5 separate regions of the Homo sapiens genome follow, and regions 1, 2, 4 and 5 are each reported to be linked to region 3. The links are microRNA targets in miRTarBase. Many come from high-throughput screens and were not tested one by one. Region 3 holds a microRNA gene; each other region holds the end of a gene's coding sequence. Distances are from middle to middle.

Region 1 (4,595 bases), not on the chromosome of region 3:
TTCCTCAACTTGCCCCCAGCTCCATTATCCTCAAAACAAACCTGGTGAATCATTCGTTTGGTATGTGTGTAATGGGGCTTCTTGCTCTCAGCATAGTCAATGTATATTTCATCAGCGGTTCTCTGCTTTCAGGTTGTGGCCATGGAACAGAGGATGAAGAGACACCTTCTGACCAGAATGTTTCTGTAGGAGTGTCACAGTCAAAGGCAGGTTCATCCACACAGAAGACTCAATCCTGTGAGATGTGTGTCCCAGTCCTGAAAGATATTTTGCATCTAGCTGATCTCCCTGGGCAGAAACCATACTTGGTTGGAGAATGTACAAACCATCACCAGCACCAGAAGCATCACAGTGCAAAGAAATCCTTGAAGAGGGACATGGACAGAGCCTCATATGTGAAGTGCTGCCTATTCTGTATGTCATTGAAGCCCTTTCGCAAATGGGAGGTTGGAAAGGACCTTCCAGCCATGTTGCGGCTTCTGAGGTCCCTGGTCTTTCCTGGAGGCAAGAAACCCGGCACAATTACTGAATGTGGGGAGGACATTCGCAGTCAAAAAAGTCATTACAAGTCAGGTGAATGTGGGAAGGCTTCCAGGCACAAACACACTCCTGTTTACCATCCAAGAGTCTACACTGGAAAAAAGCTTTATGAGTGTAGCAAATGTGGGAAAGCCTTCCGTGGCAAGTACTCACTTGTTCAGCACCAGAGAGTCCATACTGGAGAAAGGCCTTGGGAGTGCAATGAATGTGGAAAATTCTTTAGCCAAACCTCCCACCTGAATGATCATCGGAGAATCCACACCGGAGAAAGGCCTTATGAGTGCAGCGAATGTGGAAAATTATTTAGACAAAACTCCAGCCTTGTTGACCACCAGAAAATACACACTGGAGCAAGGCCTTATGAGTGTAGCCAGTGTGGGAAATCCTTTAGCCAAAAAGCCACCCTTGTTAAACACCAAAGAGTTCACACTGGAGAAAGGCCTTATAAGTGTGGTGAATGTGGGAATTCCTTTAGTCAAAGTGCCATTCTTAATCAACACCGAAGAATTCACACTGGAGCAAAGCCTTATGAGTGTGGCCAGTGTGGGAAATCCTTTAGTCAAAAAGCTACCCTCATTAAACACCAGAGAGTTCACACTGGAGAAAGGCCTTATAAGTGTGGTGACTGTGGGAAATCCTTTAGTCAAAGCTCCATCCTTATTCAACACCGGAGAATTCATACTGGAGCAAGGCCTTATGAGTGTGGCCAGTGTGGAAAGTCCTTTAGCCAAAAGTCTGGTCTCATTCAACACCAAGTGGTTCACACTGGAGAAAGGCCTTATGAGTGCAACAAATGTGGGAATTCCTTTAGCCAATGCTCCAGCCTCATACATCACCAAAAATGTCATAACACATAGAGGCCTCATGAATGCAGCAAATGTGGAAGCGCCTTCAACTCAAGATCTATCATCATTTAGCTCCTGAAAGTCCACACTTAAGTAGAGCCTTAGACCTACAGGGAAAGTGCTGTCTCTGTAGTATTGTAGCAGTAGAGAGCCTTTGTGAGGGAGCCATCTGCCTGAAGTTGAACCTCATTCTTCCTTGTTTCTCTGGTAGAAACCATCTACCCTCTACCACCTTGCACAGTGGGCACTGGTCACTCCTATGTGCTAAGACAAGGCAGACATCTGTGTGTTCTCTTAAGTCTTTGGAGGAAATCTTGAGCAGTCTAAGCCTTTAGAGAAAATTCATTCTTTTTTCTGACTGATCACAGCATACGTGTGACCCAGTTTGGGTCAGGAGGGCCCAGCCTTGGTTCTGCTGGACACTTATGTGCAAGGATTCCCTTCATGTAAATTCTTGGTCTCACATGACACTTGGTCATTCTTCCAGCCTCCATGTCACCACGTGGTGAATGGCTGCCTCACATTGCTCCAGTTTGTGCACTAATAAAAGCCTTATATTTGAATCTACCTGTAGTCTTGGGGTTCTGTTTACTGTGTGGGGTGGCTGGGAGACAGACTTCAACTCTATATGAAGGAATGGATGGCTTTTGTGGGCCTCTGCAGGAAAGTAAGATGACAGAGTAATTCTAATTCTGGTTTTGGTCATACTTGCTTTGCTACCTAAAATCTCCTAGGAAAAAATGCAAGGTTTTGGTTATTCTAATTTGTGGCCTGGATCCCTATTCTTTCTGTGAGACTAGAGGTCATCCTGAGGAGAGGCCAGCTGTTATGACAAGCATGTGTGCTTCAGGGAATAGGACAATTTTATTCCATTGTTTCCAGAGGATGTCATATGATGCCCAGTGCTGCTGAGAAGCTTTTCATGGGGTTCTATAAGGAGGCATGCCCTGATATCAAACATTCCATAGGCCGATGTCACGCAGAAGACAACGCGAGTCACATGTGAACTGTAATTGGTACAGAAATACCTGGGTATTTCTGTACTGTGTGTACTGTAGCAAACTAGTTGGAATGTGCCTCTTATAAAAGTACATTTACAAATCTTCCCGTGACTGTGGCTTTGAGCAGTCATAGGACCTAGAAATCTGTGTATGTCCAATAGCTGAGGTTATTTTCAGCAAAAATAATTAAAGGGTTTTATTTTTTAATTCTTGTTGGTTTTCTAGGTTGTTCACCTCAAGTGCATTGCTGTAGAGGCAGAAAAAGGAGGATAAAGATAACAGAAGTCCTATAGGCCAGGGATGTATTGATAGCTCTTGTGATTTCCACCAGTGTTGCTGTTGTCTCAAATTGCCACAGCCTTCATTGCTTGCCAACATTTCCTGCATGGAGGGACTCATGGTTGCCCTTCCCCAGGCCTGAAGAGAGAGTGCAGTCAACATGAGATTGCTAGGCATTCTGGTTTCTGAAAGTTGGGTGATCAGATACTTTATTGTGAAACATGTTTTACAAACTTTCTTGATGTGTAAGTGACATGCCATAGTTTACATCCATTTATGGTGTATAATTTGAAGAGTTTGTCATACAAGCCTGTGAAACCATAATCATGATCATGAACATATTCATGATTCACCTCTTGCTGTTTTACAATCTCTGCGTGTACTTTCCAGGCCTTCAGGAGTCCTGTCATTTACTTTCCCTACAGGAGAATAGTTTGTGTTTTCTAGGATTTTATGTGAATTGAAACGTAAAATACTTACTCCATTTTTCCTGATGATGCACAATTTTTTTTTTTTTTTTGAGATGGAGTCTCAGTCTGTCACCAGGCTGGAGTGCAGTGGCATGATCTTGGCTCACTCCAACCTCCTCCTGGGTTCCAGCGATTCTCCTGCCTCAGCCTCCTGAGAAGCTAGGACTACAGGCATGCACTACCACGCCCAACTAATTTTTGTATTTTTAGTAGAGATGTGGTTTTACCATGTTTGCCAGGATGGTCTTGATCTCTTGACCTCGTGATCCGCCCGCCTCAGCCTCCCGAAGTGCTGGGATTACAGGCGTAAGCCACCACACCAGCTGATGCACAATTACTTTTAAGATTTATCAATATTGCTTATGTGAATAGTTCATTTGTATTGCTGAGAAATAGTCTGTGGATATGTCACAATTTGGATAAACAGTTGGATGCTTTCCAGTTTTGGGCTGTTGCAAATAATGCTACTATGAACATAGGCATATAACTCTTAATATGCAGAAATGCTTTATTTCTCCTGTGTCAGTAGTACAGTGTACGTGAATGCGTCACTTTTAAAGACAAGGCCAGACTATAACCTAACTGTACCATTTGCATTCTCATCAACAGTATGTGAACCTTCTTATTTCTCTACATTCTTGCCATACTTGGTATGGTTAGTCTTTTTAATTTTAGTTGTTTTAATAGCTGTATAATAGCATCTGTCTGTGATTTTATTGCATTTTTCTGGTATTTTATGGTATTGAACATTTGAACATCTTGTATCTAGTTGCCACCTGTATATCCTCTTTGGAAGAATGTTTATTAATGTCTTTTGCTTATTTTTAAATGGATGTTGGTGATACTTTTTCATTAATAAATAGACGTATAACAAAGACTTATGTTGAAACTTTACTCATTCTTCAGTAATGTGATGCACTTATTTGCTAAATGATAAAATTGTTTTCAAATACTGGGAAAATAATTTCTCAGTTTTTTGGTCTATTCACAGTGTAACAACTACAGACACTATATACCTGAAACACTACCTTCATTGACAAATTCTCCATCACTTTCTTAGGTCTAACCATTCAATGAAACAAATAAGCCCTGGTTTTTAATATTTGCCAATTTCCCTGGTAAAATACTCCCACCATGGCCAATTACAAGGTGTCAAAATAATGTCACTGAACATGAATTGAGAAGAAGTGGGTAGCGTCACACCACTGTATTCTACTTTCACCATGCCAATACAGTAGCCGCAGATAACCTGAAGATCATGTATGTAGGAACCATACAGCCTGTGGTGTGGCAAGACTGATGCCATCTTGAAGTGAAGCTGTCATGGTCACCTATGTTCTGAAGCAGTAGCATAGATATCATCAAAATGCTTCTCTCCCCCAATGGTCATGAGTCTTGGCAAGAAAGTCTGAAGACGTGAAGAGCTGCACGTTTTACCCTAAAAACTCCAGGCCGGGCGT
Region 2 (3,041 bases), not on the chromosome of region 3:
GCGGTCACCCCAGTCGCCGGCCTCTTCCCACCTGGGCGCGGGACCCGAAAGCCCAGCGTCGACGACGCAGCCACTTCCGATTCCGGTCGGAGCACCGCCCCGTCCCCGAACACGTGACACACACTTCCGGCCTCCTCTCCCGCCGGCCCGCCGCTCATCGCGGGGCTCCGCCCCGTCTTAAAGGGATAGTGCCCTTGAGACTCGGATCTCAGCCTCTCAGGCGAACCCGAACCTGGACGCGCTACGATGAGAGCGAGTTCGAGTCCAGGCTCCACTGGCTGGGTAGAAAAGCATCCGAGGCTCGTCTTTCTGAAAAGGGGAACACGGCACTAGGGGACACGCCACCCATGTGGCTGACGGGAGCACAAAATTGCTGTCCACCTAAGGGAGCCTGGTGGTGCATGAGCACTCGGCGGCCGGAACACAGCGGGGGCGGGGCGGTCGCGGCGCCTCCACTTCCGGCCAAGGCGGGTCCTCCCACCTCGGGGACGGTGCTGGAGGTCACCTTTTCCTCTCCGCTGATGCCTGGGAAGGCAGAAAGAGCAGAGGGCCCTTTTCCTCTCTCAGGGGCTTTATTGAGATGCAGTTTACATACCATAAAGTTCTCCTGTTTATTTCGTTTTGTTTTGTTTTTTTAGAGACAGAGTCTCACTGTGTCGCCCAGGCCGGAGTGCAGTGGCGTGATCTCAGCTCACTGCAACCTCCGCCTCCCGAGTTCAAGCAATTCTCCTGCCTCAGCCTCCCGAGTAGCTGGGACTACAGGCGCCCGCCACCACGTCCGTCAAAATTTTTTTTTGTATTTTAGTAGAGATGGGGCTTCACTGTGTTGCCCAGGCTGGTGTCAAACTCCTGAGCTCAGGCAATCCGCCCGCCTCAGCCTCCCAAAGTGCTGGGATTACGGGCGTGAGCCACCGCGCCCGGCCAAATTCGCCTGTTTAAACTGTAAATTCAGCCTGGGCGCGGTGGCTCATGCCTGTAATCCCAGCACTTTGGGAGGCCGAGGCGGGCAGATCACTTGAGGCCAGTTTGAGACCAGCCTGGCCAACATGGTGAGACCCCGTCTCTACTAAAAATACAAAAATTAGGCTGGGTGTGTTGGCTCACGCCTGTAATCCCAGCGCTTTGGGAGGCCGAGGTGGGTGGATCACGAGGTCAGGAGATCAAGACCATCCTGGCTAACATGGTGAAACCCTGTCTCTACTAAAAATACAAAAAGAAAAACAAAATTAACCAGGCATGGTGGCGGTTGCCTGTAGTCCCAGCTACTCAGGAGGCTGGGGCAGGAGAATGGCATGAACCCGAGAGGCAGAGCTTGCAGTGAGCCGAGATCGTGCCACTGCACTCCAGCCTGGGCGACAGAGCAAGACTCTGTCTCAAAAAAAAAAATATTGTTGAGAGAGAAGGAAGGAAGGAAGGGACAGAGAGAGGGAAAAGGAAAGAAAGAGAAAGAAAGGAAAGAAGGAAGGAGAAGAAAAAGGAAGGAAGGAGAGAGAGAAAGAAAAAAAAGAAAAAGGAAATAAAGAGAAGAAAGTAAAGAAGAAAAGGGAGAAAAGAAAGGAAAGGAAGGAAAGAGAAGGAAGAACGGAAGAAAGGAAGGCGAGAGAGAAAGAAAAAGAAAAGAAAGAGGAAGAAAGAAAAAGGAAAGAGAAAGAAGGAAAGAAAGAAAGAAAAGGAAAGGAAGGAAGGGGCCAGGTGCGGTGGCTCAAGCCTGTAATCCCAGCACTTTGGGAGGCCGAGGTGGGCGAATCACGAGGTCAGGAGATCGAGACCATCCTGGCCAACATGGTGAAACCCATCTCTACTAAAAAAGGAAGGAAAGAGAAGGAAGAAAGGAAGGAAAGAAGGAAGGAAGTAAAGAAAAGGAAGGAAGGGAGGGAGGGAGGAAAGGGCCAGGCACAGTGGCTCACGCCTGTAATCCCAGCACTTTGGGAGGCCAAGGAGGGAAGATTGCTTGAGGCCAGGGTTCAAGGCTGCAGTGAGCTACAATCGCACCACTGTACTCTAGCCTAGTCAACGTAGGGAGACCCTGTCTCAAAACAAACAAGAAAAAAAACAAAGGAATCACCGCAGGAGAGGATTCTGGGCCATGGTGAGCCATGTTCTGGGGCTGGACATTACTGCTGACCCCCGGCCATTCCCTGCTGTTCCCACTGCCTGGGGTCCCTGGGCCTGGGCGGACTCTTTCTCCGTGGCCGGCTGCATTCTCCATGGACTGATGTCCGGGGACCCCAAGCAGAAACCACCTGAGCCCTGGGGCCTCGGGCCCACCCTGCTCCAGAGGAGGCCACAGACTGAGCACCTTCTAAGCAACCTTTATTTGCAAACTCTGAGGTTGGACGCGGTGCCCGAGGCGGACAGTGTCACGTTTCTCTCCCTCCACTTTCCCCTGGCTTTTGGGGTGCTCCAGCCTCTCCCCCCAGCCCACTCCCGCCCAAACCCAAAATGCAGAGGAGACTTCTCTCTCTCTCTCTCCCGCCAGGCTTCGGGGTTCCACGGGGCCCATCCCTGGCAGGCCAGGCGTCGGGTGCTGGTGCTCGCTCCTCTGGGGCCAGCCTGGGGAGGCAGCATGGCAGCAGTGCCTGTCAGGGACCCAGGCGGGGGCAAGGTCGCTTTCTGAGCTGACAACTTCAGGTTCCAGCTGGCAGCCAGACCTGGGGTTTGGTGGGGGTGGCCCTGGCACGGGAGAGCCAGGCGTATAGTGGGAGGTCCATGGACATGCCGCAGAGGACGGGGCCTCCGAGGGTCACGGCCAGGAGGCTCAGCACCATGGCCGAGGCTGGGCAGCGGTGGTGGGGACAGGCGGCAGCTCTAAGCCGGGGGCGGCTGTCGGGGGTGGTGGGTCCCATGCAGGAGCCCTGCTGCTGGTCCAGCGTGGAGGATGGGGGACAGGAGGTGCAGTCCCTCGGGGAGCCGCCGCGGCAGGTGTAGCAGGAGGCATGGCAGCTGGAGCAGACCCTCAGCGCGGGCGCCGCCGTGTGCCCAGGCCCAGCGGTCACCAGCCTTGTGTGGTTGAAGAACCGCGGGGGGCAGTAGGCCAGGCA
Region 3 (4,595 bases):
AGGCAGAGAGCTTATTTTCCTTTTTATAAGGTTTGTAAAGTCCTGTAGTCGTTTTCCCTAGGGGCTCCACGCGGAGTAGGCAGAAGATTATGTGAGCACTGTGCAGTGCCCATTTTACAGATGGACAAATGAGACGGAACCTCTACTCCTCACACTGGGTATGGTGATGAGTATCATGGTCTGTAAAATATAAGCTCTCTGAGGTCAGGGACTTCACTTCCTTTGTCCCCTGGTGTCTAGAACATGGCTGGGCACACAGCTGGTGGCACTCGGTGGATGTTTGCTGAATGAGAGAATGAGCATGAAGATTGGAGGCCCAGGGATGACCGGATGCCTTGTGTTACTCCCACTGTGCTTGTAAAAAGCCTACGTGATGAGGCATGCTTCCAAAGGCACCATCTCTAGCCTCGTGTGAGGTCACCTGTGTTTCTGGAGCAGTAGGGTGTGTTTGCTGACATGCCGTGCCCCTGCCCCAGCCCATTTGTTGTTCTCTGAGTTCTGTCTGTCTGTGTGTACCGACACTCAGACGTGTCACCGTGCATGTCTGCTGTCCGCCAGCAAGGGTCACGTGCCCCCAAACTTTGCAGAAAACAGGAAGCCCCGTCAGTGAGAGGGCAGCCCAGTGATTCATCAGGGGATGACAGTCCCAGCTGTTCGTCCCCCATCCTCTGCACTGGGGTCACTGTCCAGGGTGGCTTCCTCCCCATGCCTCCCCTCCCCTCCCCGCCCGGTGGAGCAGAGCGGGCTTGGACTTTGCCTTATCACCTCTGGAGGCGGCCTGGCCAGACTCTGTTTGGGCCAAGTTTTTATTTATCTTCACTGGCTTTTTTTGGGGTGGGGAGGCTGAGGAATGTGGAGTGTTGTAATGTTTGGAAGAGGGCGGTGGGGAAAGGGGAGCCAGGTCTCCTGTCCTGCTTGTCCTGCTTACCCCTGCACCTTTGCAGGCTCCCGGCCCCCCTTGGTTCCCCAGTTCCCCCTGCCAAGCCCATATCAATATGGCCCATTGTCTTTCTCCAGCTCCCTGGGTCTGGTCCCATGCTCCTGGCCACACCTCACGTCTTGGCTACCGTTGTGGCTTCCAGTTGTTCAAAGCAGCTGTGGTGGCTTCCTCCAAAAGTGGCTACGGATCAGCAACAGATGAAACTCAAGGGGCTATTTATAGCAGGGTGGCCCTGGGGCCTGGAGCAGGGCCTAGGGCCTGGGGAGATTCAGGGACTCCTCATTAGGGACCAGTGAAATGGAGATGGGTGAACTGTTGGGTTTCTGTGTTCCTCTGAGGGGGCAGTTTTGGAACAGCCTGGTTTGGGTCTTGAAAACCAAACACAGTCACTCGTTGACTCCCAGCTCCACCCCTGTCTAATCCCCCCACCCCCAAGCTTGACTCATGCAAACTGGAGTCCTCAGGGCCAGAAGAGCTGTGAGACTTAGAAACTTCCCCCCAGTAGCCCCACTTGGCTCTTCCCTCCTTCACTGCTGAGGAGCTGCTCATTGGTCCGAGGCAGCTGGGACTCTGGGCAGAGCCTTCTTCCGGACAGCTGGATGGAGGGTCCCCCTCTTAGCAGAGCTGCTCTAACTTGGGGCTCAGCTGGGAGCTGGACCTCGGAACCCACCTATCCTGCCTCGTAGGCACTGCGGAGCCAGGAGAGGGGTGCAGGGGCTCCTCTTCTTGGAGACCCCGTGGTCAAGCCCCAGGTTGGAGTGTGAATCCTGCCTGGCCGTCAACTTCCCAGGGACTTGAGGGTAAGTTATTCTGTGCCTCAGTTTCTTCCTTTCTTGGCAGATTGTGGTCCTGTCTCTTTAAAGAAGAGGCTGCAACTTGGCGGTAGGAAAAGACCATTTTCTGAGAGGCACATGGGTGTTTGGAAGGTGTCAATGGGCTCAGGAGGTCTGAGAATCTAGAAACTGGCCTTCCCAATTCTGCATCCTGTGAGGTGACTGGAAGGATGGGTAGAGGCGATGCAGGGTGTTGGTTTTCTATAGAGGTGAATGTTTGGTTGTAACTACCCTTTTCATTTTTCTTGATACAAAAGTAACAACAAAAACAACAGCTGTCATCTGGTAAATACCAGGCATGATGCGAAGTGCCTTATATGCATAACTCCTTTGGATCCTCACTGCCAGCCTGAAGGTTGTCCCATTTTACATGTGACATTACAAGAGGCTCAGAGGGGTTAAGTAACTGGCAGGGCTGCCCAGCAGGATCCTGGAATCCAAACTCTGTGGTCTGTGGGCCTCTGACCCTGTGCTTTCACACCCGCCATGCCATCCTGCTGCCCTGGGATGGATTGGGCCCATTTGCTTAAGTTTGTACCACTCGACAGCTGTGAAAAGGGGAGTGGGTGAGATGGTTACTGTCTGCCACAGACAGTGGGGAGTGGGCCCTCAGGAGCATGGCTCACTGTCTTAGGCCTCGTCTTGGTTCCTGCATGCTCCACCTGCCTGTTCTGGTCTCTAAACTCAATTGAATGACTTGATGTTACAGCTTTCAAGCAGAGAAGTGTGGGGTGATGGTGGCAAGACAGAGGGGCGCCATTACTCTCATCGCTCCTTTTGTGGTGGCAGTCGTATTCTCCTCCTGGGGTTTCTCTTGTGTTGGCGAGTGTATCAAAGTGAAGTGTGTTTCCATTGATTCAGTAACTGTTGAGTGTGCCCTCAGTGTGGATGGCACCAGCCCAGTGGGGTGCACTCCTCAGCATTCGGGATTCTTCCTTTTGTCCCTCTGGGGCTTGCACACAGGCAGGCACACTCACGTGGAATCAGTGTTGATGGCTTTGGCTTCGGGCAGGCTGTGTTTTTGCAGGGGTTAGGGTGGCAGGGCCAGAATGTTGGCAAGGAAAGAAGAGGATCATGTTTGCCCCCGTGGACAGCTCTCTGGTGTGCTCCTCCTGCCATCCTGCCCACCCCTGCATAATGCTGCTTCTCTTCTCTCCTTCCCAGGGCTCCACCAGGGTCACCCCGAGTGTCCAGCCCCACCTCCAGCCCATCAGGTATGCCTGGCCCGTGGGGGCAGGGGGCGGGAGTGCAAGCAGGGGGGTCACTGTGGGTGTCCCTGTTAAGTCTTGCCTCTGGGTCCCCCGGACTGCAGCCATAAAGCCACGGGTGGGGAGTGTGGGCAAACGTGAAAGGCACAGGAGAGGATGCGTGCGGATGCCGTTGGCAACAGTTGTGTTTTGAGCTCTTAGCCAGCCCTTGAGCTGAGTCTTTATTTACCTGCATGAGCTCATCTAGTCCTTGCAACAACCCCGCAAGGTACGTATTTTATTCCCTTTGGTAGAGCAGCATTTCAGAGAGATGAGGTGACTTGTAAAGGTCACACAGCCACCAAGAGGCAGCACTTGGATTTGCGTTTAGGGCTGATGAGCATTGAGGCCTGTGCTGGATCTCTTCCTCTCTGCAGACAGGATTCTGACTGGGCAGAGTCATTTATGAAAGGGAAGTTCCCTATCTGGCTGGGCTGGCAGGGGCCGGGGGAAGGGGATGCACAAGGGACTTTGTGTCCTGGCGATCCAGAGAGTTTGTTTTGCCCTCTCTGCCTCACCTTCACCCACTGAGGCTCCTGAGATGATTGGGGATGCCAGCCCTGCAGTAGAGTTGAAGCCCCTGGAAGTTTCTGGCCCAGCTGCCAGCTGTCCACAGACTGGAGGTGGCTCCTTAGAGGATCCCCTCCTTCCCTTAGACCTGGGCAGGTGGATGCAGAGTGTGATGCTGAGGCTGTCCGGCTGGTGGCACTGTTCTGCATTTGCGTCCTTCCTGGGATCCAGCCTGTAGACAGGGGCGGGTCAGTGCCCCAGATGGGCCACGTCTGACTCATGGCCCTCACCAGCACGGCCCCTCTTGCTCCCCTTCCTGTGCTGAGGGAGAGGCTGAAATCACAGGAGCTTGTCTTGCGAGTTTTTCTGACATTCTAGTTTCTTCCTTGGAGCCAGAACAGAGAGGGGTTTTGGAGGATGGGGAGGAGGGGATGCTGCAAGTTAGCTGAGGCTCCCCGCCCTCACACCCACTTGCTTGCAGGTATGTGTGCGTGTGGCTTCTTGTCCCAGACTGGTCACCACCTACAAGAACTGTCCTTGGGTAGGCAGTTGGCTTGAGATAGAAACTTCTCCCCCACAGCTGCAATGAGAAGCTTTCCATAGGGACAAGAAGTAGCTGGGACTCAGAGTCAAACTCAAACCGGGCTCCTTACCTCTGGGTGCTGGTCCCCAGTCCCACTCAGGCCCCTGTCATCCCAACAGAGAGGTCCTGCCATGCCTCATCCTTGGCTGCCCCATCTCCACACCCCACCTGGACTGGGATTGAACCCTGGTGGAGGTCTGGATTCCTCATGGCTTCTCAGCATCTGGGGGCTTGTTCTGTCTAGTGCCAGAGAGCCCTCATCACTTTTAAATACCCCAGTGGTATTCCTTTCGCTGCCCTCCACTCTCCACTTTATCCCGCTGTGGTGAAAGGTTAGCAGAATGAAATGTCAGTGCTGCCTGCATTTGATAGAGGGGGAAGCGAGACACTAGGAGGTCAATGATTGGGGAAAAAGCTGGAGGGATGGGGGAGGTGCTTCTAGAAGCAAGAGGTGGGCTTCCCAAGTGGGCATCCTGGACCCT
Region 4 (4,595 bases), 120 Mb from region 3:
GTAATAGATCCTTGGCATGTTTGGATTGAAATTTTGGACAAATAACAAGTGCTCTCAAGTAGATTTTGCTTTAGGACAAATTTGAATCCATCAGGCTGTGTGTGCGGTTTGTGTATGGAGCCTGTTGCTTACTGGTGACTCTGCCCAGCGGACCCTGGAGCCTGCTGCTCAGCGTAGTGGCATTGTTTCCTTCTGGCAATTACGGTAACAGTTACATGGGAAAGGACATGCTTAGTGGTATTCTCCAGTTTCAGGATTCACAGAGCTTTTCTGTCACTTGTTAAGGTCATGGGTCCAAAACTGTAATACTTCATCTAATTCCAAGAGTGTTTGGAACCAGTGGATTACAGTTACGTTGTAATTGTTGCTAAATTGGGATGTTGCCCTCTAGTTAGTGGTTAGGCATTTGTTATTTCCCTCCCTCTGTCCCTCCTTCCTTCCTTCCTCCCTTCCTCCCTTCCTTCATTCTCTCTCTTTCTTTTTTTCTTTCATTTAATATGGCTGTTGATCTCTAATCCATGATTTTATATTACACAAAATCTTTTATCATCAATCTTCCTCCCTCATTTATTCAAGACAATGTTTTCTCTATGCTGTAATCAATCTTTAGTGTGTATATATATATATATATATTTAGATTCTGAAGAATCACGTATATTCTTTTATGTTTGTTCAGTGTTTTCATCTCCGTTCTTGTCTAGTGCTTACTTTGGTTTCTATTTGTATAACCATATTTAATTGCAGCATTAGTTAGCTGGGTTATAATAGTATAACAAGAGTCAGAAAGACCCGGGCTGAAAATCAGCTCTGAAAACCACTGTCTGTGTCTGTGTATATCTAAAACCAGGTGGTAAGTGTACCTATTTCAATGTTTATTCTATGTATTGAAAGAAATAACATAGTATAGTGCTCATCCCAAACCATTTGTGCAGTAAAAAAGAAAAAAAAAAGTTAGAATATAAATTCTACAAGTGCTGAGATATTCACTAATGTTCACAAGCACTTACTACAGTCCTTGGCACCCAGGAAACACTCAATAAATACCTGTCAGTGATTGCTGTTCTTAGGCTACTATAGCCCTCCTCTCAATGCTTTGAAGATGAAAGATAAAAGAAATATCTATAAAGTACATAATAAAAGGTCTGACGTAGAGTATTTGATTTTGCTAGAAATGTATTTGCAGGAGCTTGTCATCCGGTCAATGATTGGTTTAGATAGCGTTCTTGAGAAAACATCTTCAGAAAGGCTAACAGTCTTCTGTTTCATCCTTCTCAGGCATCCTATTTTCATTGGTGGTGATGCTGTATGTCATCTGGGTCCAGGCAGTGGCTGACATGGAAAGCTACCGAAACATGAAAATGAAGGACTGCCTGGATTTCACCCCTTCTGTTCTGTATGGCTGGTCATTTTTCCTGGCCCCAGCTGGGATATTTTTTTCTTTGCTAGCTGGATTACTATTTCTGGTTGTTGGATGGCATATTCAGATACATCACTAAATCAACTGTTGCCACAAGTATTTTCTTGAGAGATTTTAAAACAAGGAATACTTTTTTTCCATTTTGTTTCATTGATCCCAGCATAAAGTTAGTAGATATAACTTTTTAGTTGCTATTCAAATTAATCATTTTACTAAAATTTTCTTCAGTAAGAAGGTCCTAGAATCTCTCCAGACACCAGCAAGCCTCTATCTTGTCTAAGTGCTGTCAAGGACCTAGTTCTTTAGGGAATAGGTAAACAGGTCTCCCTTTCATTGAACATGTTAGAGTTCATGCAGGTCGCAAAGGCCTGATAATAGCTTAATACCATGACATGGGGAAAATCTCGATAGATTTGGCTTAAAGTCTCCTTGGCATTCACTTCTGCTAATTAAAAAAAATCCTTGAAGAATAATTAAGAATGGGCAAGGTTGTCAGAGAATTTATTTTGTTTCTTGCCCACACAGATAATATCCACATACACATTCACTGGCTCTTGTGAGCAAATGAATTTAAAAATAGACAGCAGTTGTTCTAATTAGTGGGAGCCATGTACTCACCAGTTAAAATGGGCCACAACAAACAAGACTGAGAGCATGTACTTATCTTGCTTTTTCACCAACAGTGGTTTGGTTACCTAGTTTTATTCACTTAATTGTGCATGCTTACATAAACTTTAAACTACATTTAAAACTAGCAAATCTGCATACCAAATTATGTATAACGTAGATTGAATTTTTATGAACTTAAAGTGAGTTAATTGTATAATGTAATATTGTTTAAAATATGTAAAAACCAAGCATTTCCGCTTGGTCCATAATTCTATTTGATATTTTAAAATTCTCATTTAAAAATTATATTGCTATCATTCAGCATGTGAAAATTTATTGATAAAATGTGATTTTAATATTTTTTAGATATAAACTTTCAACGTACTTCCATATGAGGATTATAATAGCCCTGCTTTATTAAAGACCATAAAATATTAACTTTCCCCAAGATGTTATGGGTTCCAGTTCTTCTGATCATTTGATTCCTTTAATTACTGTCCCTCAATTTCTTCATCTTTACAATAGATATATTAACATTTACAGATCGACTATTTCCTTTAACCTCCTAGAAGAAAGTTTTTGTGGGGAAAGATGATTCTGTATTATTCAGTAGCATAGACATTTTGCATATCAAAGATGTTCATTTGGCACTAATGTTGATTGAAATCAAATCCATCTGAGATGCCTAGCTCGTATTTGCATTCTGGAAGCCTCCATCGCAGGGGAGCTCGGCAGGGTATGTGAGCTTTGTTGGAGGTGCGGTGTTTCATTCTGCAGCTGTTGTGAGGACAGAGAGGCATGGCCCACAGGCAAAAAAAGTCACCACCCAGAAGATGCTCTGGGATAGAGGAACTGCTCCTTTTCATCAGCTCTTCCAATGCCGTGGGAGAGGTGATCCCAGTCTTCTCTGTACATCTTGTGCTTTTCCATTAAGACTTGTTCCAGTGGGAAGGAGCTTTGGAAAAATTGCAAAGGTCTGAATCTTCAGGGCATTTTCATGACAGGACTTGCCAATAATAATAATAATAATAATAATAATAATAATAATAAAGCTCCAGAGGCCTAACTGGTTTCTCAAGTCATTTCAGTGATATCATTGAAACGTTTTTGTGGTACTTCCCTTTGTCTTTCACTGTTTCATTTTTATATTGCTTCATTTACTTCTTTGCTTTTGGCTTTGTTATTAGAAAAAATAATTATGAGGTCTGTTGTGCATGTTGACTGTGATATTAAGTTATGGCATGCCATTAAGTTTTCCAGACGATGTTGGATGTATCTGATTAGTTCATGTCATCTGTAAATACAATTCTTTTTTGTAGTACTTTGGAATGGAGCCTTTTTCTGGTGTACTGTATGCCATTTAAGTTTCACATACAAGCTGCTTTCGGCAAAGGCTTGAATATTTATAAATTTCAGATGGTTATCCTCACTTTATAGTACACTTAAGTGGCTACCATATATTTTTTATATGACAATTGGCTGAATAGCTGATGTGTATGACACTTTTACACAGATTTGCACTTTGGAACTATTTTATAGTTGTAATGCATCAATCAAATACATTTCAAGCACATTTCTTGATCAATTTACCAGCAACCCTCTGAAGGAATGAAGGAGAGTTGTGATTGCTATGTCAATGAGTGAAATATACTTAAAAATGGCAGAGTTATATAGTACATTATTGTAGCAACCTTATATCTGATTTGAGATACTGTGTTGCCAAATGTCCATGTTATGTTTATTTCTCTATTGGTTGTATTTATTAATTTTTAGAAGCCTTTAAACTGTGTTAGAATCTTTTTGAAAAATGTTGATTTTGCATCATAAAGTTTCAATTTATCAAGGATATCTTTTCAGTTACACTTTTAGAAAGAGTGAATAAAAAGGGCAGTGAGTTATGCTCTTGGACTTGGTGAAAGCTATCATCTCTCCATATTGTATTTGTTCAGCTGGTTTAATTCACTCAGGTGGATGATTGCACATACATTGGAATTGGCTGGAGAGACTACACAGAGAAGTTTAATGATCGTGTACAATTTGAGGGTTGATGGTAGGGCTTTCTAAAAAAAGTAATATCAAGTGTGTTGTTAGTATTCATTTAGTCATTTTTATTACTAATCTATAAATATATTTATTAAATTTGAAGATTAAATGGAATTATAAAGGAATATATTGGAGGAAGTGTCAGTGTTGGTAATTATTCATCTATTTATCTGTCTATCATCAATATATATGGGTGCATGTCTGTGTATATTTGTGTGTATGTAAGTGTGCATGTGTATTATATGTTTGGGTAGAAAGAGATACATTGAATGGTATAAATCAATATATTTGAGCTAAGCAAGTTAAAAAAAAATCAGTTATCTTTGGGAACAGCAATCTATTATTGTTGTTTCCCTGAGTGCCACTTTAACTGTTTCACTCAATGGATGGTGGTTTATTCAGTTCAACACGTAATTTGATTTCTATTTTCTTAAAAGTAACCATGTTGGACTTACAAAGAGACTTAGAATGTCAGAGGTGTTAGGCAGATATTGGATACCAGTAAAATTGGCTGGATATGTCTGAA
Region 5 (4,595 bases), not on the chromosome of region 3:
TGAATTCTCAATTACCCTCTCTTGCCATAGTGAGCTTTAATTTCAGACTTCATTATTTAGTATACTTCTGTTAGTGACCGCTTACTCACAGGTTGTTGAGTTAGTGGTTTAGATTATGTTGCTTGACTTAATCTGTCACAGGCTTTAAGACTTGAGTTGGCTGCAAATATAGCAAGCCTCACGATGGGTTGCTCCAATTTAATACTCAATAGCTCAGGTCTTTATGAATGCAACTCTGTGTACAGAACATTTGGTTTCGCCATTTTGTTTTGTTGTGCTAGAACGATGCAGAATTTTGGAATGTTTTCTACAAACAGTATCAGTGACTATGGTAAAGTGCTTTATTTTTCATTTTGCCGAAGAGATAGTGCTGTCAATTCCCAGTATTATTCATTCATTCAGCAACTATTCATGTAGCGTCTCTATGTCATGCACTATTCTAGGCACTGGAGCAACAGCAGTAAATAAGAATTGAACTTACAGAGCGTACATTCATGATTTAGGAGGATTTTAGTTAAAGAAATTCTAGTCTTCGTGTAGACTATTATCTTTTAGTTAACCACATAACCTTGCCTAGGTAATAAGTAACGTGTTTTATGTTAAATTTCCTGAACAATATTCTTACAATATGTGAATAAAACCAAATTTAACTTTTTAAAGCCCTTTTTAGGATGTGCTTGTGCTCACTGTGTAAATTGTGATGCTCATCCTGCTGGTGAATTGTGAAAGTGTCAGTAGAGATTTCCAGATGAAAGAATGTTATCCACTTTTGTTGTTATTTAACACCACCATCATCTTTCTCTTTCAAAAATCATTTCAGATTGCCATTTACATTTGTAACTAAGGAAGTAGCTGAAGCCACATGTAATTGCCTCCTTGCCCAGGCAGAGCAGGCAGACAAGAAGGGAAAATCAAAGGCAGCAGCGGAACGGATGATACTTGAGGAATTCGGACGATGTTTGATGAGTGTCATCAACTCTGCAGGAAAGGCAAAAAGTGACCCTTGTGCCATGAATTGCTAACTCTTGCACAAAAGACTGATAAATGGAACTGTACAGAAAATTTAAGGTGCAGGGACACTTGATTTTCTGGAAGAAAAACAATTACTGTATTTTAATTCAGTCCTTGTTTTAAAAGACCTGAAATTATAATACTGAAGGAGAAGAAATTTTAAATGAGGAAATTAGTACATTTTAAATCTTAGTTAAATCTGCTTATGCCCCTTCTAAATTGAATTTTTCTTTATTATATAGATTTTTTAATTTGCTTGGGTTTCTTAAGAATTAGATGTTCTCTTTCTGATACCTTTGACAAAAAATGTTTATAAATTCATATAATTTATAATGTATGGTGTTGTATGACTTTGTTAATAGAAAAGCCAAAGCAGCAGTGGTTAGCACCCATTCTTTGGGACTTGATCTAGAATATCTGCAGACAGAATGTTACATAAACAAATTCTTATGAAACACATTCAAATGACATTTTGTATTTAGAAAAGGACTATCTTTTAAAGAAAAAGCAGCCTTTTAGGGCCGATTCTGGAATAATATCCTGTTGTCACTTTGGGAATGTCAGAAGGGGAAACAATCCCCAGGCACACTAAAAATTTTTTAAAGTTATTTAAAAAAACATATAAAATATTAAAGGACAGTAAATCTCAGAGGATGGGCAATGTGTTTCTATAATAAGGAAAGGCTAACAGATGCTCTGGGCTGTCTCCATTTTCTTTCAAAGAGGTGGTATGTATTTGAAGTAATAAATTGTCAAAGTGATTACTGGGTACTATTAAAATGATAGGTGGATATAAATGGAAGTAAACATTATGTAGTGATAATATAGAACCTCACATAGTAATCAAGTATAAAATTTGGCATGGGTGGAGAAACAAAGAATAGGGAAGCTGCAAAAGATGAATTTAGAGAAGTTTTCATCTATACAATCAATTATTTTTACAGACTTTTTTTTTTTTTTTTTTGAGACGGAGTCTCGCTGTGTAGCCCAGGCTGGAGTGCAATGGTGAGATCTCAGCTCACTGCAACGCCTCTGCCTCCCAGGTTCAAGCGATTCTCCTGCCTCAGCCTCCCGTGTAGCTGGGACTACAGGTGCATGCCACCATGCCCGGCTCATTTTTTGTATTTTTAGTAGAGACGGGGTTTCACCGTGTTAGCCAGGATGGTCTCGATCTCCTGACCTCGTGATTCGCCCGCCTCGGCCTCCCAAAGTGCTGGGATTACAGGCATAAGCCGCCGTGCCAGGCCCTTTTTATAGACTTTTGAACTAAGAGGTTTCAAACCAAATCGCAACTCTTACTTGATTTACAGAAATGGGCCTCCTAACAAAATTTTCAAAATTGTGGTGGGATTTCTTTTTATAAGGGAAGTTTAATATGGCATTATTTTCAGCCAGTGATTTGGAAGGTCTGTTTTCCTATAATTACTAAAATAACCTAAATCATTTTCAGTATTCAAAAACTCTATGAATTTAAGAGCCTGTTGTGACAGGACTCTTGATTTTATGACAAGAAAAAACCATGTTGGAATTCAGGCATTTTGTTAGGTACCTTAATCATCAGTAATTAGTATATGATTATTTCATTTCCTACAAGGACTCTATAGTTGTATGTATTAAGTGTGTATATATGTTCATATGAACATGCAAGATATAGGCAATAGAAATTAAGTAATCCAAAAGAGGATTCCGTTATTCACTAAAGTATCTTCCTTTTAAATTTGGATTTATAAAATCATAGTGCAGTAACTTTAAATGTAGATAGTTCAAACATTCTTAGCACCTCAATCTAGTATGTTTAATTAAAATTTGTATAAATGTAAATTAGTGTAAGAGGGTAAAATAATAATCAAGTTATTTTTCAAAAGATTGCAATAAGTTTTTGGTCTAAACTTAAACTTTGTTCATTTTGTACATACTCTGTGTTAATTCTAATTGCACCTTTGTGATGTGTATTTATATACAGTGTGCAGAAAATGTTCGTGAAATTTTGATTACAATTGTAGATTATGTATGATGGCATTGCTTACGAATGTTTTGCTTGTAAAAAAATTTCAAGGTGCAATCAAATGCTACTAGTTTTTCTGATTTTCAAAAATCTATCTATCTAAAATATTAAGCCTTTTCCTTCCTGTGTAGTACTTACTAAATAACTTTTTGTATTCAGGCATTTGCATCAAATTGCTGAACAAGATGAATAGCCACATTAATTCAATGATTTTAAAAGACTATTTGGGGAGGGTTGGGTATATAATTTTTTAGCTCTATTTACATCCCAAAGTAGAAAGATTAAATTTATATTTACTAGAGCTATTCAAAGAATACACTTTTCTATATTGTAAAAACAGGACAGCAAAGTAAATCATACAGAAAATAAACATTTATACTATTCTGTAAAAAAGGTTTTGCATTTTTTCTTTAGTATAATAACACCACTTTATTAACCATTTAATATGCAAAAAACCTTTTAAATTATCTGAAGTAAATTTGACATTACTTCTGAAAACACACAACTAAAAAATTCTATCATTTTGCTCAGTTATTACTAACATAAATTGCTTTGAAATGAGAATATGTCTTCTCTTTTTTTCCCCACTGTTTCTTTTAAGAGCAGAAACTCAGCCGGGCATGGTGGCTCACGCCTGTAATTCCAGCACTTTGGGAGGTCAAGGCGGGTGAATCACTTGAGTCCAGGAGTTCTAGACCAGCCCAGGCTACATGGTGAAACCCTGTCTCTACTAAAAATATAAAAAAATTCACTGCGTGTGGTGGCGCACACCTGCAGTCCTCGCTACTTTGAAGGCCTGAGCCTGCAGAGGTTGAGGCTGTAGTGAGTCAAAATTACACCACTGCACTCCAGCCTGGCAATCAGAGTGAGACCTTGTCTCAAAAACAAAAATACCTAGAAAATCAATCTACTCTGTCTTTTAATGTGAAATGTTCTTATGATAGCTATCTTTCTTAGTTTCCTTTTTTTCTGAAGCACTAAACACAACCTGTAGGTCTTATCTCTGGGGTCTGGGAAACAGAACCTTAATGTTACAGGTACAAAAGCAAACAGAGTGATTAGTTCCCCATTTTCTGGTAGTGAACAACTGACATTTTTTCAATCTTATGTAAAATGTGAATAAAAATAATTTTAGAAAAGTTATCTATTTTTATTGTTCTGTAACACAAATAGTTAAGAAAATGAATACTTGTTATGTAAATGAAGCTTCACAGCAGGACCTCCGGCCATAACTTTGATCATGTTGTATCTCTTAAGCATTTTATATAGGAATTCTGGTGTGGCTACCCAAAGCAGAAGGGAAGGCAATCAACTAAAAATCCCTTTCTATTGGAGTTATTTTCATCATGTAAATTACTTCAGGCTTTTCTTGTTAGGGCTTCTTGAATGCACATTTTGTCATTATCTGTATACCAAAGGTGAGCTTTTTTTTTTAATCCATGTGATTTTATGAGTTGAAAGCTATAAGGTTTTTTTTAATTAAAAATTTCCTTCTAAATGGCAAATTTTGTGACAGCATTTAAGACACTCAGTTTCTATTCAAAAGCAATAAGAAAACAAGTATGTTTAGGGTTATGTT

The links. The annotated mature microRNA hsa-miR-6809-5p reads UGGCAAGGAAAGAAGAGGAUCA and lies in region 3 at 2,827-2,848, shown strand. An mRNA with a match to its seed (bases 2 to 7 or 8) in the 3' UTR can be bound and repressed. Matches are read on the target gene's strand: a 7mer-m8 pairs with bases 2 to 8, a 7mer-A1 pairs with bases 2 to 7 and ends in A, and an 8mer does both.
Region 1: miRTarBase lists ZIK1 as a target of hsa-miR-6809-5p. Seed matches in the 3' UTR shown: 7mer-A1 at 2,754-2,760 and 7mer-A1 at 3,773-3,779.
Region 2: miRTarBase lists PCSK4 as a target of hsa-miR-6809-5p. Seed matches in the 3' UTR shown: 7mer-m8 at 2,600-2,606.
Region 4: the mRNA of TMEM182 is a reported target of hsa-miR-6809-5p. Seed matches in the 3' UTR shown: 7mer-A1 at 3,033-3,039.
Region 5: miRTarBase lists LIN54 as a target of hsa-miR-6809-5p. The part of its 3' UTR that is shown has no 7-base or 8-base seed match.

Annotation. Positions count from the first base shown.
Region 1 is chr19:57,589,879-57,594,473 of GRCh38, forward strand. It overlaps ZIK1 (zinc finger protein interacting with K protein 1), which reads left to right. Exons shown (of 4, transcript NM_001010879.4): 4 at 133-4,012. The coding sequence ends at 1,397. Among named protein-coding and RNA genes, the nearest start is that of ZNF530, 7.7 kb to the right of the region's middle.
Region 2 is chr19:1,479,132-1,482,172 of GRCh38, forward strand. It overlaps PCSK4 (proprotein convertase subtilisin/kexin type 4), which reads right to left. Exons shown (of 15, transcript NM_017573.5): 15 at 2,297-3,041. The coding sequence ends at 2,628. It overlaps C19orf25 (chromosome 19 open reading frame 25), which reads right to left and starts at 84. Exons shown (of 3, transcript NM_152482.3): 1 at 32-84. RefSeq lists an enhancer at 131-250.
Region 3 is chr2:217,898,855-217,903,449 of GRCh38, reverse strand. It overlaps MIR6809 (microRNA 6809), which reads left to right and starts at 2,822; the gene lies at 2,822-2,937. TNS1 (tensin 1) reads left to right here. Exons shown (of 33, transcript NM_001387777.1): 7 at 2,938-2,987.
Region 4 is chr2:102,813,473-102,818,067 of GRCh38, forward strand. TMEM182 (transmembrane protein 182) reads left to right here. Exons shown (of 5, transcript NM_144632.5): 5 at 1,276-4,207. The coding sequence ends at 1,496. Among named protein-coding and RNA genes, the nearest start is that of TMEM182, 54 kb to the left of the region's middle.
Region 5 is chr4:82,924,529-82,929,123 of GRCh38, reverse strand. It overlaps LIN54 (lin-54 DREAM MuvB core complex component), which reads left to right. Exons shown (of 13, transcript NM_194282.4): 13 at 821-4,521. The coding sequence ends at 1,022. Among named protein-coding and RNA genes, the nearest start is that of THAP9-AS1, 26 kb to the right of the region's middle.